7 linked regions of the Homo sapiens genome follow. The protein of the gene in region 1 interacts with the protein of each later gene in a pairwise test. Each region holds a gene or a part of one and is shown in the gene's direction. Other genes may lie near its edges. The genes, in order: HMBOX1, UBA6, ZNF250, WT1, CDC7, SNRPB2 and SAP30L.

Region 1 (4,455 bases):
CATTCAGATTAGTAATTTAAAGTGAAAGATGTTCCTTATCCTCTGAACAATCCTTGTGCATAAGAAAATTAATTCAATTCTTACATGTTATCTTTTTCTGTTATAAAAGAATTGCTGGTATCATGGACTTAGATGACCTTTGTAGGTCATTTACTGCCATAAATTCGTGATTATATGCTTAAACTAGGTAAATTATGAGAAATAAAATTGTGAAATGCCGGAGTATATGCCTTTGTTTATATTAATACACATTGGAACATTATTCTCAATATCCAGGAGAGCTTCTAGACTCAGCGTTTTCTCAGTAAAATATTGTATCTTCAGTGTCACATGCATGCTTTGATCCTGTTTGTTATGCTCTTAATCACTTTGCTTTGTAGTGATCATATGAATGATCATTCTAGCAATTGTGGATCATTTTGCTTTAGGTTATATTTGCATTAGGAAACTCTCAGTGCAGGGCACAGACATCTAATTTGAACAAGGTGATACATAAAGGGAAATGTATTCTCTGATGAAACAAAACAGCAAGAAGAGCAGGGATATATCAGGGGCTTAGGGATTATTGGAACAAGGGATGTGAGTGCTGCAGAGCTTTCTCCATCGCTCTGTTCCACGTTTCTTGGTATGTCTGCTTCTTCCTCCCATGAACTAGCTGCTTCCATATAATGAGGAATTTACCAGACTAATATCTTCCTGCAACTGAACACAGTTATGGTGACTGTTCATCTTTCCCCTCGTCTGACTAGAAAATTATGGGGAGAGCAAGGTTTGGCTTTCTTCTGTGCTCACCCCACTGGCCAGAAGGTGGGGTATTACGAGTGATAGCCCAAGAACATGTGCTTGGAAAGAATGAGGTGTTCTAAGCAGACAAAGTAAATAGGTGGCCTATTGTTTCTCCTTTTATGACTTGGAATAAAAGTGGTTCTAATAGTCAATGAATCTGAAATGACACAAAATATTAGATTGTTTCATATGCTGTGAAATCTTTAGTTTTGACAATTCTAATTCAAGTGTTAGGATGGATACTTTTCAGTAATAAGTGAAATTCATACAATTTACTTTTGCTTTATGCTAATACAGAGTGCTGCTCCATACAAGGAATGGTTTGAAGAACTGTATATAGATAACTAACTGCTCTGATATGAATACTATAGGAAAATACTATGATTGGGGATTTTTGTCCATATAATAAAACAGTTATTGAAGTCATCTAAAGTAAGATCACTTTATGAAATACTTTGATAACATGAAGACTGAAAATAGCAACAAACAGGTCTACTTCATTTTCAAGGGAAAATAATAATGTTTATGTTTAATTTTTTTCATTACAAAATATTGTGGGGGAACTTAGGCCATCAAGAAAGAATATAATAATCATGAAAATAGGTCTTTTTAAAATCATGGCTAACTTGTTACAAGTGAGTATTGGAAGAAATCAGACCCTAACATTTGTAGGTGTAGAGCAGATACTGTGGCCCATGGGCACAAATGGCCTGCAACATGTTTAGGTCCACAGAATGTGTGTGTTTGGTTTTGTTTTATTTTTATGAGCTTGTTTTAAAAACCAGGAAGATTTCATCTACAGTTCTAGATTTTTCCCTACTTATTTTTAAAAGGATTTGAAAGATAAAACAATCAGTGAAATGGAATAGACTATCCAAAGGTAATGCAGATTCATATGGAAATTGTGTATATGATAAAGGCAGCATTTCACATCGGAGGAGAAGACAGATATTCAGTAAAAACATACGACATCTAGCTGTCCATTTGGGATGAAATAAAGCCCCAATTTTTTATACTTGTTAAGTCAATAAAAATTCTAGATGGAGCAAGGATTTTAAATGTAGAAAACTATTACTAGGACCCCTAGGTTCATCAGTAATTAGAATAGTTTTATCTAAATGGCTTTAAATGAGACTTAAAGGAGTAGAATAGCCTGTGTGCCAAATCATATGTTTCCAGTTAAGTCCTGCAATGTATTGTAAAGGAGAATGATGTGTGCTTTTGGAGTCAATAAGATCTAGGCTTAAATCTTTTTCCTACTGTTTACTCAGATTTTTTGTGAAGTACAAAACTACACTGAGCTTTAGTTTCCTCAACAATCAATCCATCAACATAAAATGAAATGAATAAAGAACATCTACCATGGGGAGTTGCTGTGAGAATTGGATGAGATTATGTTATGTGAAATTCGTACCCAGTTCCTGCCTAGAAGTGACTGTTAATAAAGTTTTCATGTAGAAGGACAAAGAAACAGTGAGACCTTCAATAGCTATAGGACACTGGCCCAGAGCAGATGTTTGTTTGAGAAAGATGAAGAAATTTCTTGACATCTGTTTCCATCTGCAAACACTTATTGAGAGCCTACTGCATGCCATGCATTATATTTGGCACTAGAACAATAAATATCAAAATAGAAGAGATTACAACTTTAAAAAATCTTGAATGGAAAACTCAGGTCTTATAAGAAAGGAATTCAAGGCCGAGCATGGTGGCTCACACCTGTAATCCCAGCACTTTGGGAGGCCGAGGCGGGCGAATCACCTGAGGTCAGGAGTTTGAGATCAGCCTGGCCAACATGTTGAAACCCCATCTCTACTAAAAATATAAAAGTAGCCAGGCTTGGTGGCAGGTGCCTGTAATCCCAGCTACTCAGGAGGTTGAGGCAGGAGAATCGCTTGCACCCAGGAGGTGGAGGTTGCAGTGAGCCAAGACTGCGCCACTGCACTCCAGCCTGGTTGACAAGAGCAAAACTCTGTATCCAAAACAACAACAACAACAACAACAAAGGGATTCAAGCAGTGAGAATTTTTATAGTATTTGACTACTCCCTTAATATTGTTACTCACCCTAAGAAAACATTTTCTGATGTGCTGTAGTATCTTGTGCTAGTTAAAGGAAACATGTAAAAGTAATTTCCTAAGAAAAATGAATAGCATTGTTTGGCTACAACCATGAAAGATCTATTTCTCAGGGTAGCTATTAAGAGAGAATGCATTACCAGAGATGGAAAACTTAGGAAATTGCTAAGTAGTGAATGAAATGGTGCTTATTTTTTTTTTTAATGTACCTCTGTTTTCCACTTAAGTATTTTTGCTGGTTATTAGCATTTGCTTGGACTTAGCTTAGCAAATCATTTGTTCTCACTAAATGAGGTTGTAGAGAATTCCTAGGTCTGTTTAGCTAATATTTGGTAAATAATATAATACAAACTATTTTTTTCAGTAATTTTCCATTAATACTCTAATGTAGAGTAATACACTTGAGATGGGCAAAACACTTCTGAGTTATCACGTAGCCTGGGCTTATTGCACTCCATGTACCTAATCTATTGTTCTGGTATTATTTACATAACTAAAATTTTGGTTCTGATATTTACCAAAATTGAGGAAAATGTAAATTGTATGCCATATGAAATTAGGTTTTATGTTACACCTATGTTCACCTACTAATACATTTAGTATCTGTACCAATCCATTTGCCATGGCACAATCATTCTAGCATGGGACATACCTTCATTTTCAATACAGAAGCTTATGTAGAAATATTGCATCTTCTGAGCATTCTGTATAATATGTGCTTTGGTAGATACTGTCAATAAAGAGACTTCTTTTTATCTCTTTTTTTTTAGTTTGCTGGAAACCATGTCTCATTATACAGATGAACCCAGATTTACCATAGAGCAGATAGATCTGCTTCAGCGACTTCGGCGTACTGGAATGACTAAACATGAAATTCTCCATGCCTTGGAAACTTTGGACCGTCTTGATCAAGAGCATAGTGACAAGTTTGGAAGAAGGTCCAGCTATGGAGGAAGTTCATATGGGAATAGTACTAACAATGTCCCAGCATCTTCCTCTACAGCTACAGCTTCCACACAGACGCAGCATTCGGGAATGTCCCCGTCACCTAGCAACAGTTATGATACTTCCCCACAGCCTTGCACTACCAATCAAAATGGGAGGGAGAATAATGAGCGATTATCTACATCCAATGGAAAGATGTCACCAACTCGCTACCATGCAAACAGCATGGGTCAGAGGTCATACAGTTTTGAAGCCTCAGAAGAGGACCTAGATGTAGATGATAAAGTGGAAGAATTAATGAGGTTAGTGACTTTGCTTATTCAGAGTCCCTAAAAATGTCTGTATTCTTAGATTGTTTTTAAGTAGTATGCTGCGTTTCAGCTACTTAGCTATAAGAACTGTAACTTCCTCTAGCTATAAGAACTGTAACTTCCTCCTCCCACCTTTGGAGATGAAAGAAAGAAAGTTCAAGCTTTATGTTTTTAATTTAAATTTTCTCTTCTTTACTTCAGCCCTTTCTCTTTGCTGCTTGACAAGCCTTTTCCATTCTGTTTATCAAACACTAATCTTCTCTATGACTCTAATAGCTAATTTCTGACTAACAGACACATTCTAATCCTTAAAAATCTGTTGTAAGTACTTTTTC
Region 2 (4,455 bases), on another chromosome or scaffold:
ATGTGCATATATTTACTACACACATTTTTTAATTTTATTTTTTAATTTTTCCTCAGATAATATTAAGTAGTGGGTGTCTTTAATTCATTTTTTTTCTTTAGGCTCTTCAGCTTCTTCACTGTTTCCCTCTGGACATACGATTAAAAGATGGCAGTAAGTATAAATGTTGAGAATAAATTTTAATGACATTTATTACTGGCTACATACATTGAAAATGATATTTGTATCTTTTTGCCAGGTTTATTTTGGCAGTCACCAAAGAGGCCACCCTCTCCAATAAAATTTGATTTAAATGAGCCTTTGTAAGTATTTATATTTAGTTTTATGTATCCTTCATTATATATTTCTTTACTGTAAATTCCTTAACTGTACATTGCAGAGTGAAAACCTTAGGCTCTTTAATGTTAAATTATTTCATCCCTGTTCATTTAAGAGTTAACAAGTCATTCTGACCAAGAAAGCCAGCCACAACCCTTCCCACACAAATGTGAATCCATTCATTTACATGGTAAATAACCTCATTATTTATAATAAATATCTAAGGTGAAACCAAAATCACCTTTTTTACTTTATCCATAAATTAGTAAAATGACAATGTGTTTTTACATTTAATGAAATCAAATATAAGAATCTTCAGTTATATGGAGGAACAAATAATTACTACTGAATAACTCCCTAAATCTCAAATTATTTTCAGAGGAGTTGGTCTTTGTGTGAATACCTGGAAACACTATATTAGATACACATTAGATTCACACTTGTGTGTATATGTATATTTTTTCTATTTTTTTAATTTAGTTTTTATTCTTTGAAAGAGACAAGGTCTCACATATGTGGCCCAGCCTGGTCTTGAACTCCTAGGCTCAAGCAATCCTCGCACCTCAGCTTCCCAAGTAGCTGGGATTACAGGTGCATACCACCACACCCAACCTTATGTATATATATTTTTAAACACTTAGCTTGCATTCACTAACCTTCCTTTCAGCAGATAACTCTATGCTTAATTTTCTCATCTGGTGGTGGTTTTAGGCTTCCAGTCACCTTATGCTGGACTGCTTCTTCTATAAGACTTTCTTTTTTTGTTTTTAAATAAACACATTTACTTAGTTTGAACTTGATATATACTCATTAAGACCAAATGTATAATATTTCTTATGACTTAAAATGAATTATTGTTCACTGGTCTGAGTTTTCTGGTTCTGTCCACTCACTCCTCTTCCCAAGGTAGTCATGATCACTACCTGAATGTTAAGTGTTTTTGAGAATAACTGTTTGATGTTTTGTCTTTTATAACTTCTGTAGTGTTTTGGTGTAGACCAGAATATTTTTGTCTAACTTAAAAAAAAAAACTTGAAATAATAATTCTGTGGTTATATTTCTTCAAACTACATTTAAAGGCTATAGTTCATAATGAGTTAAATATCGTCTTTAAAACTGTACATTCAAATTTTGCTTTATTTTTTAATTTCAAAAGGCACCTCAGTTTCCTTCAGAATGCTGCAAAACTATATGCTACAGTATATTGTATTCCATTTGCAGAAGAGGTAAGATATTCTTTAAGCCTTAGCAAGTGATGCAAAACCAAATTAGAATTAGATGACTGATGCACTAATTGCATCAAAACATGTTTGTTTGTTATAAGAATCACTCTTTTTGATACAGAATTTTTATTGTATTTTTACCCATACTAACATAATGGAAGCTAAAAGCTCATTGCAGTATTGCTAAGTAGAAGTCGGATTTTTCCTTCTGAATTGAAGCAGTGAAACAGCATTATTTGTTAAAAGCAGTTAAACTTTGTTTTAAGAATATTTATAACCTGCTTAGCAGCTTCAGTTATCCTAGTTATTCTAAAAAGCCACAGCAAACCATTTCATCGCAATTTTGAAATACTGCGTAGAGATTTTCTTTGTTAACATTTGTTTGTTATTTTGTGATAATTTATGTGCTTTTCAGGAAATCTGAAAATGCTCCCTTATATTGACATTTCTTACTTTAGCATCATACTCATTCTCTTAAACATCATCTTCATTGACTAACATCTAAAGAGCCTCATACGGTTTTGAGAGGCATCTCTTTTCTTCACAAATGCATATTCTAGCTAAGTAAATTGCTGTACTTTTAGGTGGGCTAAATAGAGAAACATGAATCAGATCCCATAATTAACACTGGCTGTTTTGGATTCAGATAACAATATCTGTTTTAGATTAATCCTTTTTGGAATTCATACAAATAAACTGTAAATATTTGGTAAAAATAGTGGCATTCAGTCTGATATTCTTTTTGGGAAAATCAGTGGTAATTTAGTGGTGAGTGTGGTAATTGACCTCAAAAGCACTAAGTCTCAGCCTTTGCCAAGCAACTTCTCAATGACAAATGTAAATACAACCCATAGCTTTAAATTCATATAAGTTCATCTTTAACCATTTAAATATCTCCCTCCTTCTTAAGGTATGAATTCCATTTACTTATTTTACTTATTGAGTATAACTTACTTCAGGGAACTTTGTAAAACATTAAAAACATAAAACATAAAGCTAAGGGAATTAAAACTGACTGATCAAGTCACTCAGTTTTATATTTACAACCAGTCCTAAAAATGCCTTTTAAAAAATTTGCAGAAGGACTAAAATTTCAAGTTTGTTGACTAATAAGTACTTTTTTACCCCTTACCTTCTCCTCCCCCATAACCTTTATGGGGGGATATTTTTATAGAAATAAAGATAAATGTCTCAAATGGATGTCTACATATTCAGATAATGAAATATTCATATATTGTAATATGATTAAGGACCTTTTGTAGGATATTTTTAGCTTTAGAATTTAGAAGAATATGTTTGTTGGTAAAATTACTTTTTTAAAAACAGGACTTATCAGCAGATGCCCTCTTGAATATTCTTTCAGAAGTAAAGATTCAGGAATTCAAGCCTTCCAATAAGGTATGTTTAAAAAATCATTCATTCAGCAAATAGTTTGGGAATTTGGACTTGTACCAAGTCCCATTCTAAACCTGGAGAATATCACAATGAATGGTTCTTGCTCTTGCTCTTGTCAGTGCAACTTGAGTTTGAAGTAGATTTGTCAGAATCACAAACTGTTGATTAATACTAATTTTATTCTAGTGTGGAATTTTAAAAAAGATCAGTATAGACTTAGATTGTATGAGCTACTCAGTTAATATTTTTTTATGCCCACTATATCATTGTGGGTATTAAAAATTAGATATATTGGAGTTCTGTCAGTGAACAAGATACATAAAGATCCCCTGTTGTTATAGAGCTTACATGCCTTTGTGAGAAGATAGATAATAAAATACATACATGAATAACATAATAATACCTTCTGAAGGAATGTATAAAATACATTGGACCAATGTATTTTGGGCGGAGAGGGACTATAAACAAAAATGCTAATAAGTACATAATATTGCAGTGTGAGTGTAAGTGCTAAGAAGGAAAAATACAACAGGGAAAAGAAAGAGTGATGGAGCTGGTATAATTTTATATGGGATGGAAGTGAGGAAAACCTCTGATAACAGTAACATTTTAGCAGAAACCTGAAGGAAGTAAAGGAATAGTGAAAGAGCAATGTAGGCAGCAGAAATAAGTGCAGAGAAAGGCCTTGAAAAGCTTTTAAGGTCAGGACTCGTCTAGAAGAGAATATACAAGGGGAAGAGTCTTAAATGAGGAAATTACAGAGATAGTTGGGGCTATGATAAAGAAAGAATATTTTCTTAGTTGAAATAAGAAGCTAGCTTAGTAGCTCAGAGTGAAGGGGATAAGAAGATAAAGGAAGTAAGAGCAAAGAAAAGAAGGTATGAAATAATTGTCCAGTGAAGTGGAAGAGTCACTTAATTAAAAGATGTAGTAAAACGCAAGACAATACTGAAGATCCACTTAATGTTAATCTGCTTAATGTATCCTACTAAATGTGGCTGGAGAAAGGGTAATGATCTTTTCTCCAGCCAGAATTTAGCTGCTTGGGTGGTATTATACTGTATAATGGATGGAAAATTGGATATAACTAGGGTTGGGATTTTGCCAGGCAAATACATTGAAAAAAAAAAAAAAAAGCAATAGGGAGTATTGGTAAAGATGGAACATGAAATTTAGGCAATGTAAATAAAAAAGTTTGAAAACTTTTTTTTCTTTTTTACATGTTCAGTATATGCCTTTCTTGTATGTTCTCTAAAAATCATCCACAAAATTTAGCTATACCAGAAAAGGTGGAGTAATGACCACCTCCCTGCAAAATTCAAGAAAGAAGTGACGTGTGCAGTCTTTCGTTCTGCGTTTTTATTTTAGGAAAAAAAAAAAAGACTTGTAGGGCAGTTGATTTTGCCCAGGTAGATGGATTTGCAGAACACAATGTTTATGACTTATAGCCTATAAAGAATAAAAATAGGGTGAGGATAAACAGAAATCCCAAAGAAGGTTCCCAGCCCATGTTTCCAAG
Region 3 (4,455 bases), about 120 Mb from region 1:
GTCCCAGGTCCTTGTGACACACATACCCTTCATGGGCTCGGGGTCATAGTTTACAAAATGAGATTTTCCCCTGCATGCTGGCCCCATGCTGCATTTTCACTCACCCATCTGGTGACCTGACACAACATACATCTTTCTCTTTAGCAGGTGTGTAACTTGTATGTGGAAGGACCAACGTAGCATTTGCCTCAGCAACATCCTTGAATCTGCACCCTCACCCACATCCATTCTTATCAGGTACCCACTATCCAAGGGCCAGTCTGATTTGCCTAAATACTGCTAGGTCGCCTTCTTAAGAGTATGAGAAACTCCACTTTCCCATGCCTGCCAGTTTAAAGTGTTGACTCCGTACTTGGCTATTACAGATGGCATAAAGTGTGAGCTCATTCCTCTTCATTCATTTATTCAACAAACAGGCCGGGTGTGGTGTTCTCAGGCCTGTAATCTTGACACTTTCGGAGGCCAAGGAGGGAGGATCCCTTGAGCCTAGGAGTTCAAGACCAGTCTGGGCAACACAGCAAGACCTCGTCTCTACCAAAAAAAAAAAATTAAGAAATTATCCAGGCATGGTGGTGCAACCTGTATTCCTAGCTACTTGGGATGCTGAAGTGGGAGGATCACCTGAGCCCAGGAGTTGGAGGCTGCATTGAGCTGTGATTGAGCCACTGTACTCCAGCCTGGACTACAAAGTGAGACCCCGTCTCTAAGAAATTAATTAAAAGTTTAAAAAAGTACATTGCCTGGCAATTTGTAATCATTAGCCTAGAAGTAATTAAAAAAAAAAAAAAAAGGTCGACCACTGATTACTCTGTTGGGCCTGCTTCTTGGTCTGCTGGTGCAGGAGAAAGGGATAGGATGAGAGCTGGGTGAGGCCAGGGCTGCTGCGGTGGGTGGGGCAGAGGTCTCTAAGAGTTGGATGGGGAGCACAGGCCAAGGGATAAAGGGCTGCAGGGCTCTGAGGAAAATCACAAAGTTTGGGGCATGCCCATAGGAGCCAGTGGGGTCCTGGGAGGACCTTGGAGCAGAGGACAGTCACTGTGTTCTCACAGGAAGGTAGATGGAGGGGCTGGGCAGACAGACGGTGCTGGGAGTCTGTCTGCCCAGATGGGAGCTGCCGAACATCTAGGGGTGGTTGTCATGGGGCAGGGAGGGCGAGATGGGCAACATGGTCAGGTTCTGGATGTGCTTGGAAGGTGAATAGAAGTGTGGGAGTGAAGAAGGAAGGAGGCTGATGCACAGGCTCACAGACCAAGCTGGGGGTAGAAATGATGGTAGAGGGGGTGCTTGGTTTGGGATGTTAAATGTCTGAGATGCTATGAGACACCCATATTGAAAGGTTGAGTCAGAGGGAAGGGGGATCACGAGCTCAAGTGTACCAAAAGAGCTACTGGGCTCAACTGACTTTTCAGACTCACAGGACAACCATGCCTAGCAGCAGCTTCTCGGAAAAGCTGGCCAGCATCATCCAGCAGCCATCCAGGGAGTACTGAGGTGCATAAACACAAGATGCAGGTAGGAGGAGGAGTTAGCCTAGTCGAAAGCCTCGTGGTCATACAAGCCAGCACCTCCTGTGTCAAGAGAACTGGCTGCAAGACCTGCTAGGGAGGCCCTGAATGTACTTCCTGTGGTTGTTCATCATTGAGTCACAGCCCAGGTGTGATTGGTCCGTAGAGAGAATGACCATCCACCTCTGCCAGGTTTCCAGGGGACCAGAGCTGTGCATTCACCCAAGGTCAAATTCGCATGCAGGGCTAGGCGCAGTGACTCAAGCCTGTAATTCCAGCACTCTAGGAGGCCAAGAGGGGCATATCACTTGAGCTCAGGGGTTCGAGACCAGCCTGGGCAACATGGTGAAACCCCGTACCTACAAAAAGTACAAAAATTAGCCGGGCATGGAGGCAGGTGTCTGTAGTCCCAGCTACTCAGGAGGCTAAGGTAGGAGGATCGCTTGAGCCTGGGAGACGGAGGTTGCAGTGAGCCTAGATCATGCCACTGCACTCCAGCCTGGGTGACAGAGCGAGATTCTGTTTCAAAATAAAGAAATGGCAGATCTGTGCGCTGGTGGGTGACCCATGGAAAGGGTCAGGGTGTGGCAGGAGAGAAGGCACTTCTGCCCTTGAGGGTAGGCAGATGTCAGACAGGGGGACCAGGAGCACATGAGGCCACTGTTAATGCTCACACTTGGTCTTCATCTTAATCCAAAATTGGTTATTGTTGGGCTGGGCGTGGTGGCTCATGCCTGTAATCCCAGCACTTTGGGAGGCCAAGGCGGGTGGATCACCTGAGGTCGGGAGTTCGAGACCAGCCTGACCAAGATGGTGAAAACCCATCTCTACTAAAAATATTTAAAAAATTAGCCGAGCGTGCTGGTGGGTGCTTGTAATCCCAGCTACTCGGGAGGCTGAGGCAGGAGAATTGCTTGAACCTGGGAGGCAGGGGTTGCGGTGAGCCAAGATCACCCCATTGCATCCCAGCCTGGGTGACAGAGCAAGACTTCGTCTCAAAAAAAAAAAAAAATTGGTGGCTGGACACGGTGGCTCACGCCTGTAATCCCAGCACTTTGGGAGGCCAAGGCGGGCGGATCACCTGAGGTCGGGAGTTCAAGACCAGCCTGACCAACATGGAGAAACCCTGTCCCTACTAAAAATACAAAAAAAATTAGCTGGGCATGGTGGCGCATGCCTGTAATCCCAGCTACTTGGGAGGCTGAGACAGGAGAATCACTTGAACCCAGGAGGTGGAGGTTGCGGTGAGCCGAGATCTCGCCGTTGCATTCCAGCCTGGGCAACAAGAGTGAAACTCTGTCTCAAAAAAAAAAACAAACAAAAAAATTGGTTATTGATGTATCCCATCTGGGTACACACAAGTTACTAAAGGAACCACTGATTTCCTGCTGAACTAAAATGTAACATTTTTGTTATCTTCCAATTTCCCACATACCTGTCTGGCTTCATCTGTTCCTCTGTCAACAACTTGTTGGTTTAATTGCAGCGGCTTCCTACCCACCCTTGGCTCTGATTCCTGGCAAGGCAGTCCCCACCCTCTGTTCTTTCCAGTTAAATTCTTGGCTATTCTCTAGCATCCATTCTTCTTATGAATTCTCAAGTAGTTGTAGTCATTCCTTTAAAAGACTTCTGTTGGAATTCTAATTAGAGTTGCATTGCGCTAACACAGAAGTGTGCTCACACACACATTTGGAGGGAATGGGCATTTTTGGAGAACAGCAGCACGGGGGAGGGTTGAAAGTCAGTCTCTCTCCAACTGTGTTTCCCTGTCCTGTTCTTCAGAGGCAGGCAGTTAGTTTATTGTGTATCTTCCTGAAAGTTGTCTGTGCAAATATATACATGTATCTGATGTGTGTTTTTTTTGTTTTGTTTTGAGACAGAGTCTCAGCTGAGATGATCTCAGCTCACTGCAACCTCCACATCCTGGGTTCAAGTGATTCTCCTGCCTTAGCCTCCTGAGTAGTTGGGATTACAGGCACCCGCCACCACACCCAGCTGATTTTTGTTTTTGTTTTTGTTTTGAGATGGAGTTTTGCTCTTGGTTGCCCAGGCTGGAGTGCAATGGCATGATCTCGGCTCATCGCATCCTCCACCTCCTGAGTTCAAGCAATTCTCTTGCCTCAGCCTCCTGAGTAGCTGGGACTACAGGCGTGCACCACCACACCCGGCTAATTTTGTGTTTTTAGTAGAGACGGGGTTTCCCCATGTTGGTCATGGCTGGTCTCGAACTCCCAACCTCGGGTGATCCGCCTGCCTCGGCCTCCCAAAGTGCTGGGATTACAGGCATAAGCCACTGCACCCGGCCTGATTTTTGTATTTTTAGTAGAGACGGGGTTTCACCATGTTGGCCAGGCTGGTCTCAAACTCCTGACCTCCGGTGATGTGCCTGCCTCACCCTCCCAAAGTGCTGAGATTACAGGTATGAGCCACCGCGCCCACCTATATCTGATGTTTTATAGACACTGAGATTATGATGTCCCTTGACTTCTGCCCCCAGCCCTGACACCTATTTTGTCACTCTTAAAGCACCCTGTTTGTTGTGGTGCCCATCTGAGCCAAGCATGTGAGGGGATTGGTTGCTTTGTTATACCACGTTTTTCTGGAGTGATCTACCACCTTTGGTCACCTGGTTGGTTTCTGTATCCCTGTCACAGTATCTTCTTTTTGATGCTCCAGAAGACTGCGAACCCTATCCTGTACAGGACCAAATGTGTCAGGAAAGCTCTTGCCCCGCTCCCCCTTTTTCCCAGCTGTTTGGGTGTGTGTCAGATACCTTTGCTTACCTTGTCCTGTTACGTTCCAGCACCAGCCCCACTACCCCAAGCATCCCCTTCTCACTTGATGACAAGTCTTCCTTCAGCTGCTCAGACCAGATCCCTAGGCCACTGTTGACTCAGTTTGTCCAGAACTGACCACTTCCATGCCTCCCCTTCAAATACCTGGTTGAACC
Region 4 (4,455 bases), on another chromosome or scaffold:
ATGTTTCCAGAAGTGTCACGAAGAAAGAACAGTGTGCTCCCTACTCCCAAGCCTTTCAATGGAGAGCAATAAAGGCAAGGGTTACAGAAATACGGAAATCTGACGACGGTTTAGGGAGACATCAAGCCTCTCCCCTGACGAATACAATCAGAATCCTTCACCGGGACCCTTACTGAGATTAACAACTCCTGTTCCCATGTGCACTGCTTCTAGGATGAATTAAGGGAAATGGAAAATGCTTCCTTTGCTTTCTTTCCCATCAAGCCCAGTTTGTCAGGCTCACTTGCCATGGCCTCTAAAACACTCCAGACCAGACAGGTATTGAGTATTCCAATCCAACAGCTGGCTCACCATTTAATTTTATGCCTTCATTATCCCTGAGACACTATGGCCTATTAACATCAATGTTGTGTTGTATGTCACTGCAGCATTTATTCTTCCAAAAAAGAAAATGACCTTTCAGTGCAGGGCAATGTGAAATAGGGACTAGAACATAAGCATGGGGTAGAGTGGAAAATGCACAGGGCAAGGAGTTGGTTATATTCAGAAGTGGTTCCAGGTCTTAGCACAAAACATGGATGCACTTTAGGCCAGGCATGGTGGCTCACACCTGTAATCCCAGCACTCTAGGAGGCCAAGGTGGAAGGATCCCTTCAGCTCAAGAGTTTGAGACCAGCCTGAGCAACATAGGGAGACCCTATCTCTACCAAAAAAAAAAAAAAAAATTAGCTGGGCATGATGACTCTCACCTGTTGTCCCAGCTGTTCAGGAGGCTGAAGTGGGAGGATTACTTAAGCTGGTGAGGTCGAGGCTGCAGGAGCCCCGATCGTGCCACTGCACTCCAGCCTGGACAACAGAATAAGATCCTGTCTTAAGAACAAACAAAACCAAAACATGGATGCACTCTTGTGTCAGCATCTCACCGCCTTTGGGGTTGATTTACTCATCTATAAAGGAATGAGGAGAATTTAGTGGCCACTCAGGCACTTGCTCAGCTCCCATTTATGACTCCCTGACCCCAAGAAGAGGAAGGGGAGCTTGCCTCTTTGTTTTCCTCCAGTTCTTATTCTTGGAAGACTGACAACACACACACTGCACTTCCACAAGATAAAGGGGAGCAACAGATGCCCTGCAAAGGACGTGTGCAGAGCACAGAAGGCAGATGGATTCCAGTGCTTTCTGGCCTCACTATTAAAGGTTGTGCTGGCTTCACCATGGCCTTCTGGTGGGTTTTGCTTCCTTTCACAGATGGGATCCCCAAATCCAGGGGCTTCTTCTTCCTTGTTATTTACTTATACTTGGACGATCTGGTCAGTTAGGGGCTCATTCATTATCCCACTTTTTTCTAATAAGGATGTCCCCACCCATTGCAGACTGGCTCTAGGTCATGTGGTCATGACTCCAAGTGGGAGGGAGTAGTTAGACTTTGGGACTTTGGACTTGCAGACATCACTACCTCAAGAGGAGAAGCTGAGAGATAGAATGGATTGGGAGCTCTTCCAGGTACCAGCATTTCTTTTGCAGAGGCTCTGGGACAGCCATTTCATGTAGGTTTCATCTCAACAGCCACTTCTGGTTGCTCAGTAGTGATGATCTTAGAGCACTGCATTGTAGAATGTCCTGATCTAGCATCCATTACTGATGTCTGCCATGGGGATCTGGAGTGTGAATGGGAGTGGTTTTAGGTCTGCACCTGCCACCCCTTCTTTGGATATACTCCAGTGCTCACTCTCCCTCAAGACCTACGTGAATGTTCACATGTGGCTTAAAGCCTCCCTTCCTCTTACTCTCTGCCTGCAGGATGTGCGACGTGTGCCTGGAGTAGCCCCGACTCTTGTACGGTCGGCATCTGAGACCAGTGAGAAACGCCCCTTCATGTGTGCTTACCCAGGCTGCAATAAGAGATATTTTAAGCTGTCCCACTTACAGATGCACAGCAGGAAGCACACTGGTAAGTGTGCCCGCTGTCCAGTCTTGGGCAAACATGGTTCAAGAGCTCCTTTTCCAGGCTCTCACACTGCTAAGGACCCAGGTTATTTCCAGGATGGAAAGTAAGCACTGCTTTGAAAGGTCTGATCCAGGTGTTGTAAAGAGGCTGTGGGGCCATTTTGCATTCTGATTATCTATCCTTTATTACAGAGGTCAGTAAACTGTCTTCCAGAAAGGCAGAGCAGAGTGGTAGAGAGAAAGTGCCACAGAATTAAAGAGACCTGTGTAGGAATCGTGTTGGTGTTAGAATACTATTAGCATTTCTAAGGAGAGAGGAGCTGGCCTGGGAATATAGTCATCAGATGGTTTTAGGAGGTCGATGGGCAAGATCATTGTGAAATTTTAGAAGAGATGGTCCAAAGAAAAACTTACCTGCTTGGGTCAGTAATAATCAACTAGACAGGAAGGGGAAAATTGATTGTTAGTTTGATTTTTTAGTGATCACTTAAAAAAAAAAGGTCAGTCATGGGGGCTCACGCCTGTAATCCCAGCACTTTGGGAGGCCGAAGTGGGTGGATCACCCAAGGTCAGGAGTTGGAGACCAGCCTGGCCAACAAGGTGAAACCCCGTCTCTACTAAAAATACAAAAATGAGCCGGGTGTGGTGGCACGCACCTGTACTTGGGAGGCTGGGGCAGGAGAATTGCTTGAACCTAGGAGGCAGAGGTTGCAGTGAGCTGAGATCTTACCACTGTACTCCAGCCTGGGCGACAGAGCAAGACTCTGCCAAAAAAAAAAAAAAGGAGAGAGAGAGATGATGATTTTTTATCTTTGAAGATACGCCAATGAAACTGGATTTTCCCCCAGGTCAGAGAGGCTGCTTCTGGGAAACAGAGAACTGGCATTGTTTGGTGTTGGCCACCTTGAATGTGGACAGCCATGTCACAGAACGTTTACTCTGGGCCTTGTGGGCACTAGGTGGGAGTGTGGGAGTGTGGTAAAACCCAGGTTTTCCTACAGAGGAGCTACTGCTGCCTTTTCCACAATCGAAGAACAGCATTATTATAGGATCACTGTTGCAACTGTGTTATTACTGCTGATTTTGCTCTTGGGAAGCTGGAGAAAAAAGTGAGCTGCATTCAGATTTCCTTGGACCATTGAAATTTGCTAATTCACTGTGTCCAGAGGATGCAATTCTGGTGTCAATCTGAGTTTGCACTCAGTGGGCCACAGACTTTGAGGCTAAAAAGGAGGGGACCAGTGGCATGTTATGTTTTTACACATTTCCCCAAATGGGATCATTTGAAAAGTGACTGTCAAGGTTATAAGGAAAACGAGAAAGTAAAGTCCTGCCTGAAAAATGCAAGGGAATAAATGAAGGCAATATGGTTGTAGAAACTTTTAGTGAGAGAGAAGCACTTAGAATGCAGTGAGGGTTAGACAACTGTGTGAAGGGAAGGCAGTGAACAAGACAGCCAAAACCCCAGACCCACTGGAGCCTTTAAGAAACTCTTCCTTGCAGAAGATGAGGGCAGGTTGGTATTTAACAATCCTACAGTCCCCCTTGAAAGAGAGCAATATTTTCTTATTTATTTATAACAACAGTACAGACTGTTATATTAAGTACTTTTTGGGTGTCAGGCTCTCTACATGTATATTTCATTTAATCCTCACTCACAAAACATTTATGAAGAGTATAGGATATAGCAGAAAGAGGACTCAAACTCCTTCTTTTTAACTGCAGGTTATAATCCTCCTTCTCAAAGAGTTCCTGGTTTGTTTGGGAGCTAGGATATAAAGAAATGAAAAGTGACTGAGAGAGTACATGATCATGTACTAAATCAGAGACAGGAGGTACCGAGGGGTTTGGAGGGTATCAGTTTGAACTAAGGTCATCCGAGAAAGTTTCTCAGAGGAAGAACAGCTTGGGTTAGCCAGTGGAGGCTGGTAGTTTGGGCAGAGAAAGTGATAGATGAGCAGAAGCTCAAAGGCAGGGGAAGGAAATCAGACTCAATAGGGGTAACATCTTCTCCAGCTCACAGAGGTGAAACATAAGGCACCAACCTGGATACAAATACAAAGAAAGGGGCCAGGTGCAGTGGCTCACACCTGTAATCCCAGTATGTTGGGAGGCGTAGGCGGGAGGATTGCTTAAGGGGTTCAAGACCAGCCTGGGCAATATAGTGAGACCCTGTCTCTAAAAAAAATATTTTTAAAAATTTAGCCAAGTGTGCTGGTGTATGCCTGTAGTCCCAGCTACTCAGGAGGCTGAGGTAGGAGGATTGCTTGTGCCCACGGTTTCGAGGCTGCAGTGAGCTAGGCTCACACCACTGCGCTTTAGTCTGGGCAACAGAGAGAGACTCTGTCTCTGAGAAAAAATAAAAATAAAAAGGCTCCAGCCCTTAGGATTTTCCAACCCATTGAAGAATTGTAGAATTGTAGACCCAGACACAGCTCACCACATTAGACAGCCTGGAATAAATGTCGTAATGAGGGAAGGAAGGGAAATTGGCCCATGCAGTTTCCA
Region 5 (4,455 bases), on another chromosome or scaffold:
CATCTCAAAAAAGAAAGAAAATTAGAAAATATATATAATCAGCAACACCTCTGTGAAATTGGGCAAATGATTTAACCTCCCTGAATTGAGTTTCCTTATCTGAAAAATCAGGATAATCATTCCTGCTCTGCCAAGTTCACAGTACTGTTAGGAAGACCTCAAAAGATACTGCATGTGCCGGTGCTTTGAAAATGTCTTAAACTTATGCTATATAGGGCTAGTAGAGCCTAGATACTGTAATAAAATCTGAAGACTTATCTAGTTCTCTTCTGTATCCAGTAGTTTACTGGGTTTTGTATTATTGCCTCCCCTTGTTTTAACTATGTACATTTTTATAAAGAACTGATACTTATTTAAAAGTAGCAATTTATCTGCAGTCAAGGATAGAGGATACTACTGGCAATTGGGACAAATTTTTAAAAATACTTTTTTACATGCTTGAGAGCTTTAGTAGGCCTTCTCTCTGAAAATATAGTGTGAATATTTAATACATAAAATTTTACCAAGCCTTTAAGATTTTGTATCTTTACGGGAAATAGTTTTCAAGAACATCGCAATGTGTCCTTGTCATGCCATCTAGTGATCACAGCACAAATTGTTTAGTTATTTTAAAAATTTGGTGCTTTTTCATGTTGTAATCTCTACAGTAACAATGTATCTCTTAGTATATAATTCCAGTATAGTAGAAATTTGGTGTATTTAATTCTGGGACTGTCATTTTTGTCTGTTCAAGAGGTGTGTGTGAGTTATAGCAACTTGATGGGTTTTAATCTTATCACAATGTTATTAAAACTTATGTATAATTAATTACTCATATTTTATAATTTATTTCATTGAGCTTTTTAAATTTTAAGAAACTGTAAAATATACTGTCATTGATTAAAACTCTAAATTTTTGTTTCCTTGAAAGGTGTTAAAAAAGATATTGAGAAGCTTTATGAAGCTGTACCACAGCTTAGTAATGTGTTTAAGATTGAGGACAAAATTGGAGAAGGTAATCTGGGGATATGCTTTTACTATTTTTACGAGGTCTTTTTTCCATTCTATTTTCCTTTTTTAGTCTTGGTTTTCATTACTATTTCTTATTGAAAAATATACCACTTTTTAGACTATTAAGACCATAGTTTTATTACTAATTATGGTAACAGCTTTTCTTTTTCAACCTTAAAGAAAGAATAAATAATAAATATTTACTGTAAAATGAAGTCCTGTTTTAATGTATTATGCCATTGAAACAGTTTTTACAATCTATCTTAGAATTGTTTCATTAACATTTTTAAAAACCAGATATTGAAAAATTTAATAAATTGTTTTACAGGCACTTTCAGCTCTGTTTATTTGGCCACAGCACAGTTACAAGTAGGACCTGAAGAGAAAATTGCTCTAAAACACTTGATTCCAACAAGTCATCCTATAAGAATTGCAGCTGAACTTCAGTGCCTAACAGTGGCTGGGTAGGCAATTTAAACATATTTTAATTGAACTTGTATATAATTTATAAGATTTTAAAGTAGATATTTAGCAGGGATGAGGGGATTATATGTGAATTAAATACATTTTTCAGTCAAGTGTTTGCAATTTGCTAGCACTTTCCTTCTAACCTTGCAATAGTTAGTTAAATTTATAGTAATTCTTTTAGATTGGATTTCCCTTGAGGCTCGACCTGATTTCCTGTCTTTTATCACTGCTTTTTGTAACCTTCCTGCCAAATCATAAACCTTGGCTTTCATGGTTTACATTATTTTGTAAATGTAGGGAACTCACATTTCACATTTCCCCAGCTATTGACGACCTCATCTAATATTTTATTTAGAATAACAGAATCATCTGGTATGGTTTCTCTCTGCTAGGTCATTTCTGTCAACATATGGACATGATTTAGAATCTTACCCTCCTAAACTGCCCTCCTTCTTCCACCTGCTCCATCATTTCTTTGTTCCCCCTTACAGCCAGACTTCTCAAAAATTATCTGCATACATTGTTTTCATTCCACACCTCTCTTTCACTAAATACCTATTGCGGCTGTTCTTCTCTATGCTAAACTGGAAACTATAGAGTCAATCATTACTCTAGGCATCATTTAACACAATTGACGTGAACCCTTGTCTTGACTTCTGTCCTGCCACACCCTCCTTGTTTTCTTCTTCCCTCATTTGGCCTTTCATTTTCAGTGTCTTTGCTAGCTCTTCCACTTCTATCTGACCCCTAAATATTGGAGTTCCTCGTGCTTGCTCTTAGGTTTCTCTGTATTCTTAGTGTCCTCCATTTCCACATGATCTAAAGTAATGATTCCCAAAAGTATATAGTTAATCTCAGACCTTTTATCTTAACTACAGGTTTGTGTATATCCACCTGCCTATTTAACATTTCCACTTGGTGCCTGATAAATATCTCAAACCTAAAAGACAAACCTAAACCTTAACATACCAAAAAAAAAAAAAAAAACACCACAACAAATGTTCTTATCCACCCGTCTCTGCAAATGGCCCATCTACACACTTGTTTGGGCCAGAAACCTAGAAATCATCCTCATTTTCTCTATTTCTCTCCTAAACCACATTAATCACTAAGTCCTAGCCATTTTGGCTCTAAAGTATATCTAGAAGTTCATCCATGTCTTTCTGTCTTCTCTGCCACTACCTCAGATGAAGCCTAGACTACGACTGTAGCCTGCTTCTTCCTTCTCCCCTTAATTCTGTCTTTACACAGCAGCCAGAATGATCTTTAAAATATAAAATATATATGTATATAACTTAAATTGGGTCATTAGTTCCACCACTTAAAATCTTTCAGTGGTTTCCCTATGTACTTTGAAAAAAAAATTCAACCTTCTCATGCCTATCTTCCCACCTCCCTCACTGTGCTCCATTTCTTTAGTTTATCAAATTTGTCTCAAGAGCTTTCTTACCTCAGGGCCACTGCCCAGACTGTTTCCCCATTCAGGAAGACCTCTCCCAGTCATTGCTTGCTGACCCTTCATCTTCTGATCTGAGCAAGAGTGAAACTGGACGCAGTAGTTCATGCTTGTAATCCCAGCACTTTGGGAGGATTGCTTGAGGCCAGGAGTTTGAGACCTGCCTGGGCAACCTAGCAAGAACCCATCTTTACAAAAAACTTAAAAATTATCCAGGCAAGGTGGCACACATCTGTAGTCCCAGCTACTTGGGAGGCTGAGGTAGGAGGATCGCTTGAGCCCAGGAGTTTGAGGCTGTAATGACCTGCGATCACTCCATTGCACTCCATCCAGCCTGGTCAACAAAACAAGACCCTGCCTCTGAGAAAAAAAAAAAAGAGTGACATTGCTTGAAAGATGTCTTCTCTGAATTAAATTAGATTCTCCTATTTTTTTTTATTGTCATAGCATCTTTAGATTTCTTTCAAAGCCCTTATCGTATTCTGTCATTATAAGTTACCTTGTTATTATCTGTATTGTCCACTAGATAGTAAACTCCATGAGGACAGAAATTCTGTAAATTTTATTCACTATTGCATCACTAATGTCTATAATCCCTAACAGCAAATAACAGTGCCAACTAAATACTGAATGAATGAATAAGCCTGTTTGTTTCAGCCTTCTGTGTATTATAGAAGACAAGAAAATGAGATGGCCTCTATAAAGAATGCTTGCATACATTCTTGTACCCTAAATATGATCATTTCTTTTTCTATATTTTTAACTGTCTCCCTCTACCACTTTTTCTTTTTCTGTGCTTAAAAAAGTACATGCTAAAAATGCCTTCATCTGATCTTACAATGCAGTCAGGCAAATTGTCTTCAGGCTCAGCTTCCATTGTGTTATATTTTCCTTCCTTCTGTTTTGTTTCTTCCTTTCCACTTAAATTGCTGTCTTAAAAATTACCAGTTAATTATTCTTTGCCTAACTAAAAGCCTTCCCTCAGTTGTTATTCTCTTTGACTTCCATGCTAATAACTCTTCCTTCAAAATTCCTTTCTTATTTGGCTCTCTAACTTGGCTTCTTCCAAGCTCAGTTTTCTTTTCTCGCTATTAATTTTCATGTCTGTAGGTATCACTTCTCTGCAGGTACTCTCACTGACTTCTCACTTGTCTTCTCACTTAAGGCTTAGTCCCTTGTCTAGATAACTCTATCAAAATGATGAGGTCTGGTTTTAGATGCTTCTTTTACTGGCTTCTCTACTCATTTTTTGGTATCTCTATTGTTTTCTTACTCAGGCTCAAAATCATAGAAATCACCTTTGTCCTATTTTCCTCTTTTATGAAGCAGTGTAACATAGTGATTAAGAACATATATCTGGAGCAAAATGCCTGGGTTCAAATCCTGGCTCATTGATCTATTAGTTTAGTGACCTTGATTTATTTATTACTGTTACCATCTTATCTGCTAAGTCTTATTAATCTTTTCCCTTTTTTCTCATTCTGCTGCTTCCCCAGTCACAACTATAATTACCTCGTTTGAATTATTATAGTAACTTCAAA
Region 6 (4,455 bases), on another chromosome or scaffold:
TGTTTTTGTTCTGTGTGTGTCTGTTTTTTTAAACACACGTGCTTATAGCAGCTTTATTCCTAATCGCCAAAAACTGTAAACAAACCAAGTATCCTTCATTGAATGATGTAAATCAAATTGGTACATCAATACGATGAAATACTACTCGCTGTTAAAAGCAACGGCATAGATGAATCTCAAAGACATTATGCCAAGTAAAGGAAGGCAGCCTCCAGGTTATATCATGTATGATCCTATCTATGTGACATTCTGGAAAGGGCAGCAGGGACAGAGAACAGATGAGTGTTTGGAAGAGGAGGGGTGGGGTAACAAAGGGGAAGCATGAGGGGATTTTTAGGTGATAGAACTGCCCTGTGTCCTGATTGTGGTGGTAGATACATTAATCTTTACAAATGTTACAACTCAGAGCTGTACATCCAAAAAGTTACGATGCAAAAAAGTTTTATTTAAATCCTCACATTTATGATGTTTAGAATTCTAAAAAATGAAAAAAAATTCAAATAAACTCATTAAAAATGGTTTAAAAGAAATTTTCCATCTAGTTTTCTGCCAGAAAAGTTGTTCTGTGGGGACTCTGCCAAACCAGCCCTAGTGTTCTGTGGGCCTATTCTATCTGTAAAACAGGATTAGTCTAGAATGGCGATTTTCTTTATTTTTCACCAGCTCCCTCAAATTGCATCCCTAGGTGCTCCCTCTGTGACTGTGGGGTGAGGGTAGGTTTGGAGAGGAAAGGGCATTTGGCCTCCAGTGGGCTCTGGAGCCACAGTTCTATGTCAAGCTGAGCAGTTTTGCTTTTGTTTGTTTTATATGTTGTTTGTTGAATACCTCTGGATTAGAATAGCTGATCTTGAGCCAGATCCTCAGGCACTGAGGAGATTTGAACAGTTCAGGATTCCAAAGCCCGCTGGTGGAGCCCACTCATTTGTTCCTTTAACACTTCAATGCAGTTTTCTCTATTCTTTGATTAAATGGAGAGAAGCCGTGGTACAGATATTTCAAAGTCCTGTGTTTCTCACATGAAAATATATGTTTTTTTAATCTAATAAACACACTTGAATCTAACTTTGTCTAAATTATGAATTATAGCCCACAGTTTACTTCCATTTGGCACTCAGTATATTCTGACAGATTTTCTTAGGGATATGTTTAAAATTAGCTTGTAGTGTATTTGCGTAATGAAATTTGAAATATTAATGACTAGTGTAAACATCCTTCAGCATGAGAAGTAACCTGTTTTCAAATAATTAAAACAGCGAATACAGTATGCAAAAACAGATTCGGATATAATATCAAAAATGCGTGGAACTTTTGCTGACAAAGAAAAGAAAAAAGAAAAGAAAAAAGCCAAAACTGTGGAACAGACTGCAACAACCACAAACAAAAAGCCTGGCCAGGTAAGAAAGACCAAGAAAGTTCCTGTTTGTATTGGTGTTAAAAACTTGATAGATGCTTGTCTTACAGGTAAGGAATGATCTTAGGCTTGTCTGTATATGTGCATAAATGTGTGTTTAAAAGGTGGTTTTAAGAAGCTAGAATGGTTGACTTATAAAATTCAGTATTAAGAAACAAAATATAAACCTTAACATGGAGATTTATATTAAGCAGTTTTATATTTGCATGGCATTTAATTCGATCATTGTTTAAAATATGTTAATACCTTTTGGTTTATTTCTCAAGTTTTGCTGCCTATAAATAATACTGTAGTTATTATCTTTAATCATGAGTACTTCACTCAAAGTATCTTTCTGGCTGGGCGCAGTGGCTCTTGCCTGTAATTCCAGCACTTTGGGAGGCCGAGGCAGGAGGATCACGAAGTCAGGAGATCGAGACCATCCTGGCTAACACGGTGAAACCCCGTCTCTACTAAAAATACAAAAAAAATTTAGCTGGGCTTGGTGGTGGGTGCCTGTAGTCCCAGCTACTCTGGGGGCTGAGGCAGGAGAATAGCATGAACCTGGGAGGTGGAGCTTGCAGTGAGCCGAGATTGTGCCACTGAACTCCAGCCTGGGCAACAGAGTGAGACTCTGTCTCAAAAAAAAAAAAAGAAAAAAAAAAACCCAAAAAACAAACAAAAAAAACAGTGTCTTTCTTTGAACAATTCAGTAATGCAAAATATAATTTGAAATACCAGATAAAAGTGAAATGAACTGCTTGGCGCCATGGTGGCTCATGCCTATAATCCCAGCACTTTGGGAGGCTGAGGTGGGTGGATCACCTGAGGTCAGGAGTTCAAGACCAGCCTGGCCAACATGGTGATACCCCGTCTCTACTAAAAATACAAAAAATTACCTGGCCGTGGTGGTGGATGCCTGTAATCCCAGCTACTCAGGAGGCTTGAAGCAGGAGAATTGGTTGAACCTGGGAGGCAGAGGTTGCATTGAGGCAAGATTATGCCATTGCACTCCAGCCTGGGTGACAAGAGCAAGACTCCATCTCAAAAAAAAAAAAAAAAAAAAGTGAAATTCACCAAAAAGTAATTACTTCTGGATTGAAAGTGATTAAAAGTCAGTTTTATTAAATGACTTATGTCCAGTTGTTTTTAAAAGTAAGACTAGGCCTTGGTTTTCTCTTATATATTTCTCCATAATTTTAAAGCTAAGAGGTTAAATTTTATAATATACTATTTAAAGTTTAGGGCTGGTCTTAACAAAAATAACCGACAAATTAAGAACATGAGTGTTTGAGTCAGTGTTAAGATATAAATTCTTAAAGTAAAATTAAATGGAGTAAGAAGGATATCTCTTGGAATTAATGTTATTTTTAATGCAGTAATTATAAATATAAATACCTGCTGCGTTTTTGGAGGGATTGGATATTTAAACTCTCCCTATTTATTTTGCTTAGGGAACTCCAAATTCAGCTAATACCCAAGGAAATTCAACACCAAATCCTCAGGTAATTTTTTTTCCATGTCGTGCTTACCTTAAAATAAGATTGTAAAAATTACAGCAGTGGTATAAAACAATTTCCATGTCTCCAAAAACAAAATGATTTCATCTACAAGACACAGTGCGTTAAATTGTCTGCCACTGCAATGTAAGAACTCAACTCCTGAAGAACATTTTAATTCTTTTTTAGAGAGAGAAAACGACACCTGACTTTATTTCTTGTTTTCCATAATGAATCAATGACAGAATCAAAATGACAGACTTTAAACTCTAAGGGCTGGGAGCAAACATTTTGGTTTCCTCTACAGTACCTAAAGCTTTACACAGTTGCATGGGTAAGGGTAACTGGCAGGGTCAGGGGCTCTCTTCCATTCCAGTTGGTTGAAACACTACAGTGTTACACTCTTTGGGCACATAGTTTTATAGTTAACCTTTGCTCTCACTTCCTGAACACAAATAAATTCCAGCCTTTTTTTTTTAAGCCTCCTTGTACAAATGTTTTAGAAACTCCGTATTAAATCTCCCCATGACATACCTCAAAGAGAAGGCCTCAGTAATGTGCTGATGGTTTCATACTTTTTTTTTTCCAGATGGCGGGGTCTGGCAAGATCCTTAAATCCATAGAATTCTCTGTACCACTGAGGTTTTTCTCCTCTTGTTTTAAGTTACTTGGGTTTTTTATCTCCTCAGCATTTATAGTCCAGTTCACAAATGCCAGCACTTAATCCTCTAAGCCTTGAGTTGTTCACTAATTATTTTTTATACTTGCTCTTTTCTCTTTTATGACAGTAGCAGGAAGACAGAGCTCTTTTCTTATATAGAAGACCCTTTCTTTAGTTCCCCATAACCTCTGGGTGGGATATCAAATGAGTAATATCTAATAAACTAAGTGTTTGTTACTGCTTGTTTGTATGTAACTAGATGCTGTGTATATCTCATTTATTTGCCAAAAATAAGTAAATTAAAAGTCCCTAAGCAGTGGTTCTCGGTGGTAATCTTTCTAGTTCCAATTTTTTTTTTTTTTTTTAGTATGCTGGGAAGTAGTAACAGTACAGAGGAATTGAGTATCTGAGTGATACTGAGTGTGGTAACCAGCTACGGAGGGGTGACATTGCTGGCCATCTCTAATTTTATTAAGATCTTTGATTATGTTATCCAGGTGACAAAATTCTCCAATCACGACTCACCTCCAGAAGCTTAAAACATAATTGTTTCATATACTGTTAAACACTTAAGAGATTTGTAATTTTCCAGACTTTCAGTGTCTTTACTTGAATGTCTGCCTTGCTTAGTTACTGTAAGGTTTTGATTTATTTCTCCAGTGTCATTGTTTTTCAGCTTTATTGTTTGATATAGTAAGATTTCACATGCCTAGCTTACGATGCTGTTTAAACTTACAAGCTAACTTTGCCTTTTTACTTTTTAATAGGTCCCTGATTACCCTCCAAACTATATTTTATTCCTTAATAACTTACCAGAAGAGACTAATGAGATGATGTTATCCATGCTGTTTAATCAGTAAGTTTTTTCATAAATAAGTCTGTTTCTGAGAGCTTCCTCACAGGAC
Region 7 (4,455 bases), on another chromosome or scaffold:
CAGGTGCTATTTTTAAGTGGTTGGGAGAGAGTTAATGGCTTTCTTACTACAAATCTCTATCAATGAATGCATGAATGGAAATATCTGAGAACAAACAAGGGTCTAGACACCAAGGTGATCCCTCCTTAGGTCACACGTTGAGGTGAAATGCTTATGGCAATGAATTCATCCACTTAGAAACACTGCCTACCTTCCGTGTAGGTTGTTAGAAGCTGCTTTACTTGAGCAGCTTATAATAATAATTTCCAGTCCTTAAAAGAATCTTCCAGTCCTTTTAGATCACTGGATGCCTTCCCATCTGAATGATTTTGCTGCTGCAACTGGGACTCCTTTTATTTACCCATTGACTGTACTGGAAAACCTGTGTTGAGCTATGCTGATCATTTCACACACACTGTCTAGAAGAAGGGCAGCCTGAGCCTAGCATTAGTGTTCCCAAAATGTAATACTTCTGAGGTAGTAAGGTTTCCAGGTGGAATCACTCAAAATTTGTTTTAAGGTGGTGTTGTGGAGTCATTATTTCTGAAAGGGATTCTATTTCTTTCTCACAGGCTTGGGCAGGAATTCAATTCCAGGTAACTGGTATGTTACAAGAATTTTTAGCTATTGCAGAAAGTGAAGGAAAAAAAAAAACTAGAGCCTTTGCTACCACCCTCCTGCCCCAACCCCACTCCCAAAGGCCACTGAGCTCTGAAATTTCTGAAAACCAGTATGTACTTGAAAATGGTTAAGGAGAAAATGATTATTTATCTTGTAAGAGAGTCTAGCAGAGAACCTTTTTAAATAACAACACCAGAAATTCAATTCAGGCTGTTTAACTCATTTTATATAGACTTTGGCAGTGTTCTGTGATCTGTTAAAATACTAATATACCTCCAGTTGACATATTTCTGCTTTTTTTTTCCTGGAGAAAAGTGGAAGTTGAGAATAGTATAAAGGAAAATGCTGGAGTAGGAAAAGACATGTACTGGGGGGGCAGAAGGCCTGGGTGACCTTGGCCAGGTCATTTCCTCACTCTGGATGGCTTCATTTTACCCATTTAGAAAACGGATTGGGGTCAATGGGATTGCACTAGTGATTGCTAAGTTCTCTTACAGCTAGGATTCCGTTATTCTATTGTCCTGATCTGAAATCTCCCAGCCAAAGCTTTAGGAAGCCACCTATTCTCCCTGTTCTCCTATGAAGTTTGTTACTGTGAACTTGAGGAGCAGTTGATCTGAGTGGACTCGCCAGTCTAGCTAACATGGAGGGCTAGCTTCCTCTCAGGGATGCAGAGTGTGCTTTGTTGTGCTTTCTTCCTGGAGAAAAGCATGTCCAGTAGTATATACATCAGCTAGGTGGGATTCTTTGGGACAGTGGCATGTGCTGTGTTTGAAAGTCCTTTGACAGAGTTGAATCTGACAAAGCTATCCCAGTTTGTAACCATGTTAAGTGGTGGCTTTCATTAGCCTTAAGCCACTTTTAGATATAGGAGACTTCCTATATTGGTACATCAACATTTTTCGAGTACCTCCTGTCTGCAAGACACCATCACAGTATAAACTTAAAAGTACTTATGACTCACTAATCCAGCCACATGAAAGTGATCATTCATCTGAATAAATAAATAAACAGTTTTCATTATTTTCTCCATGAAAAGGTCTGAATTAATTGATGCGGATTTCCTGCCAGCTTACTTTTATCTTTAAGGATTTAAGGAATAAACTCAAATTCAGAAGTCTCTGCAGAACATTTGTGCAACAGCTGTTTCAGTATCAACAACCCCAAGTCATTTGCTGGGCATTCAGTTTCTGTAAAGTTTTTCAGTGGTTCCTCCAGCCAGCCTTGGAGGATTCTTCATGTCTTAGCTGTTGCTGCCACCTTCACTTACCAGTGTGCCTCCAGCCTGTATTAGAAAATCTGTAGTATCCACCTTCTTGTATGTGGTTCTACCTTGTAAGAACTTCCACATCTTTTTCCACTTTTCTTTGTGGATCAGATGTGAGATAATGCAAGAATTATAAATTGACACATAGAAACAAAGTTTTTCAAAGAGTTATTATCCTACAATAGTAGCTATTGTAATTGTAAAAATAGAGTGTCCCAAATACCGTTGCAACAGTCCCTTGTGTCCTGCTTTCCTCCTCCCCAGGACAGTACATTCCAGTCGACTATAAGTTTATGACTCCTACAGGTCTTCTAAAAATGTCACATCACTTCCTGCTTCCTTGAGGGACTCTGTCTTGTCGGAAGGAAAGTCTAAGCTGTTCTCATGCCCACCCCCCTGATGCCTCACTTTTTCATTATGCTCCTACATGGGCAGCCATCATCACCCAACTGACACTGTACCCTGGGCCTCCTCACTCTTTCTGTCATCCTCCATTGGAAACTCTAAAGTCTTGGCACTCCTACCCATCTGGAATGCTTCCTGTCTGCCTAAAGTCCTCCCTTTTAGTCAGGGCCCTTCACCCTGAGCATCTCTGTTGCAGGGATCTCTTCCTTTGCTGAATCTGTACCATTTACTGTCTTCACCATTCACTGGAAGTTTGGTGTATGATACGCTGCCAAGTGTGATGTTAGCATTCTCTTTGTGTTCTGCAACTCAGTAGTGAGCTTCTGGGAATGATGGCCTACATCTTGTCTTCCATCTATCTCTCCAATGCCCTGCAATGGAAGGAAGCCCCGCAATTCGACAGATACCTATTGCTGTCTCCAAGGAATTGGCCAACTCTGACTTTGATTTTTGTCTCCATCAGGTAAGGCACCTATATATCTGTGATTTTCACAAAAATTTCATCCAGAGTGTCCGAAATAAAAGGAAGAGGAAGACAAGTGACGATGGCGGAGATTCTCCCGAGCACGACACTGACATTCCTGAGGTAAAGGTCAAAGAAACCAGTTGCGGAAGCTGGAAGAATGGATTCTAATCTGATTCTCACCTCTGGCCTGGTCTGCTTTTTGTGTTAAGAAGTAATTTTAGTCCTTTTGTTTTGCTGTGGATTATTTGAAAAGTGAATTATAGTAATATGGAATCTGAGAGCTAAAAGCTTGGACACCCACTGGTCAGACTGCCCCATCATTTTACAGACAGGCACAGAGAGCCGAGGTCATGTATATAGTTTGGAGGCTCTAGTCTAGGGCCCTTTCCAGTAGACCACACTGCTTTTCTGCAAGACGCCCCTGACGAATGCGTAAATACAACCACAGTGTCACTTTTTTTTAAACCTTGTTTATGCCTTTAGAGAGTGTATAATGGTTTGGGAGAAGTCTTTTCCCCAAAAAATGAAGGTGTAAGTCATCAGTTCATACCAGCTCTGATTTTCTCTCACTGATTTCTTGACATCTAGTCCAGGCTGTTCCCAAGGATCCATTTCAAAGTTGACTAAACTGGACCCGGTTTTCTCAACTCTAGCACTGTTGACATTTGGGGTCAGCTAATTTTTGTTGTGGGGACTGTCCTCTGCATTGTAGGATATTTAACAGCATGCCTCAGCAGCATCCCCTCGTGAGATTCTACCCATCACCACCCTGAGTCATGACAATCAAAACGTGTCTCCAGACATTGCCACACCTCCTTTACAAGACAAAATCGTCCTGTGTTGAGAACCACTGCGCTAGACCATGAGACCTAGGCTTCTCAAACTGGAAGGCTGCCTTCCCTTCAGGTGCCCGTGTCTATTAAGTGAGGCTTCAGGAAGGAATATTGGATTTTCTTTCTACTAAATTGTTTTCACTCAAGACTCAGCAAGAGAAGAACCGTTTATAGTGTACATTGAATATTTGACACATGAATATTTCATAAGGCAACCGCCTGTTAGCACTCAGAGTGAAAATGACTGTGTAGGAATAGAAAGAGTAGGCGGGCCTTTGTCTGCAGATGTGGAGGAAACCGTTGAAAATCTGGCCCTTTCCCTCTGCCCCTCCCTGTGTCCCCTTTTCCAATGTTGGTTTACAGAATCTTGCTTTTGCCTTTAACGTTATTGTTATTTTACAAAGAAATGGACGTATTCGATTTCTAAGTGGTTTTCACCAAAAAAAAAAAAAAAAAGGTTTTGAGGAATGTTTTGAAAAAGAATGAAGGACTTTGGCCCCTCATATTGATCATTCATTTTGTTTTTAAGTGCTCTCCACCTGCCTGAAGCAAGAACAGCTCTTTTAGAGGCAGGTAAAGGCAGCCCAACTTTATGGGCCTTCAATTTTTCATGACTATGCAGCTTTCCTCTCTTCCTTTGTTAGAAACAAAAAGGGGGGGTCCCTTCCCCTCTGTTATCCAGTCATCTGCAAAGACCCCAGCCCTAACCTGCTGGATTGCACATTCACTACAGTAACTTTTGAACTTTCTCTGGAGGGAGGTTAAGGATTCTAATACCAGAAGGCTGGGCCTAGCAAAGAGCTATTTGAGGATAACAGCCCTCCTTTGTGCTCCTCTATCCGGTCGCTGCCTCGTTCTGGCCTATCATCCTCCAGGATGTCTCT

The links.
Region 2: the proteins of HMBOX1 (region 1) and UBA6 interact in binary tests that used the Homo sapiens proteins (3 or more experiments, as listed by UniProt).
Region 3: the proteins of HMBOX1 (region 1) and ZNF250 interact in binary tests that used the Homo sapiens proteins (3 or more experiments, as listed by UniProt).
Region 4: the proteins of HMBOX1 (region 1) and WT1 interact in binary tests that used the Homo sapiens proteins (3 or more experiments, as listed by UniProt).
Region 5: the proteins of HMBOX1 (region 1) and CDC7 interact in binary tests that used the Homo sapiens proteins (3 or more experiments, as listed by UniProt).
Region 6: the proteins of HMBOX1 (region 1) and SNRPB2 interact in binary tests that used the Homo sapiens proteins (3 or more experiments, as listed by UniProt).
Region 7: the proteins of HMBOX1 (region 1) and SAP30L interact in binary tests that used the Homo sapiens proteins (3 or more experiments, as listed by UniProt).

The regions. Positions count from the first base shown.
Region 1 is NC_000008.11:28,966,409-28,970,863, forward strand, and holds part of HMBOX1 (homeobox-containing protein 1), read left to right. Parts: intron 1-3,634; coding exon 3,635-4,111; intron 4,112-4,455. UniProt on the Homo sapiens protein: Binds directly to 5'-TTAGGG-3' repeats in telomeric DNA. Associates with the telomerase complex at sites of active telomere processing and positively regulates telomere elongation.
Region 2 is NC_000004.12:67,627,555-67,632,009, reverse strand, and holds part of UBA6 (ubiquitin-like modifier-activating enzyme 6), read left to right. Parts: intron 1-101; coding exon 102-153; intron 154-238; coding exon 239-302; intron 303-1,474; coding exon 1,475-1,544; intron 1,545-2,867; coding exon 2,868-2,939; intron 2,940-4,455. UniProt on the Homo sapiens protein: Activates ubiquitin by first adenylating its C-terminal glycine residue with ATP, and thereafter linking this residue to the side chain of a cysteine residue in E1, yielding a ubiquitin-E1 thioester and free AMP.
Region 3 is NC_000008.11:144,890,925-144,895,379, reverse strand, and holds part of ZNF250 (zinc finger protein 250), read left to right. Parts: intron 1-147; exon of another isoform or gene 148-237; intron 238-4,455. UniProt on the Homo sapiens protein: May be involved in transcriptional regulation.
Region 4 is NC_000011.10:32,393,753-32,398,207, reverse strand, and holds part of WT1 (Wilms tumor protein), read left to right. Parts: intron 1-1,800; coding exon 1,801-1,951; intron 1,952-4,455. UniProt on the Homo sapiens protein: Transcription factor that plays an important role in cellular development and cell survival. Recognizes and binds to the DNA sequence 5'-GCG(T/G)GGGCG-3'. Regulates the expression of numerous target genes, including EPO.
Region 5 is NC_000001.11:91,506,944-91,511,398, forward strand, and holds part of CDC7 (cell division cycle 7-related protein kinase), read left to right. Parts: intron 1-910; coding exon 911-994; intron 995-1,318; coding exon 1,319-1,454; intron 1,455-4,455. UniProt on the Homo sapiens protein: Kinase involved in initiation of DNA replication. Phosphorylates critical substrates that regulate the G1/S phase transition and initiation of DNA replication, such as MCM proteins and CLASPIN.
Region 6 is NC_000020.11:16,736,008-16,740,462, forward strand, and holds part of SNRPB2 (U2 small nuclear ribonucleoprotein B''), read left to right. Parts: intron 1-1,253; coding exon 1,254-1,394; intron 1,395-2,844; coding exon 2,845-2,895; intron 2,896-4,317; coding exon 4,318-4,406; intron 4,407-4,455. UniProt on the Homo sapiens protein: Involved in pre-mRNA splicing as component of the spliceosome. Associated with sn-RNP U2, where it contributes to the binding of stem loop IV of U2 snRNA.
Region 7 is NC_000005.10:154,448,356-154,452,810, forward strand, and holds part of SAP30L (histone deacetylase complex subunit SAP30L), read left to right. Parts: intron 1-2,735; coding exon 2,736-2,858; intron 2,859-4,100; coding exon of another isoform or gene 4,101-4,118; exon of another isoform or gene 4,119-4,144; intron 4,145-4,455.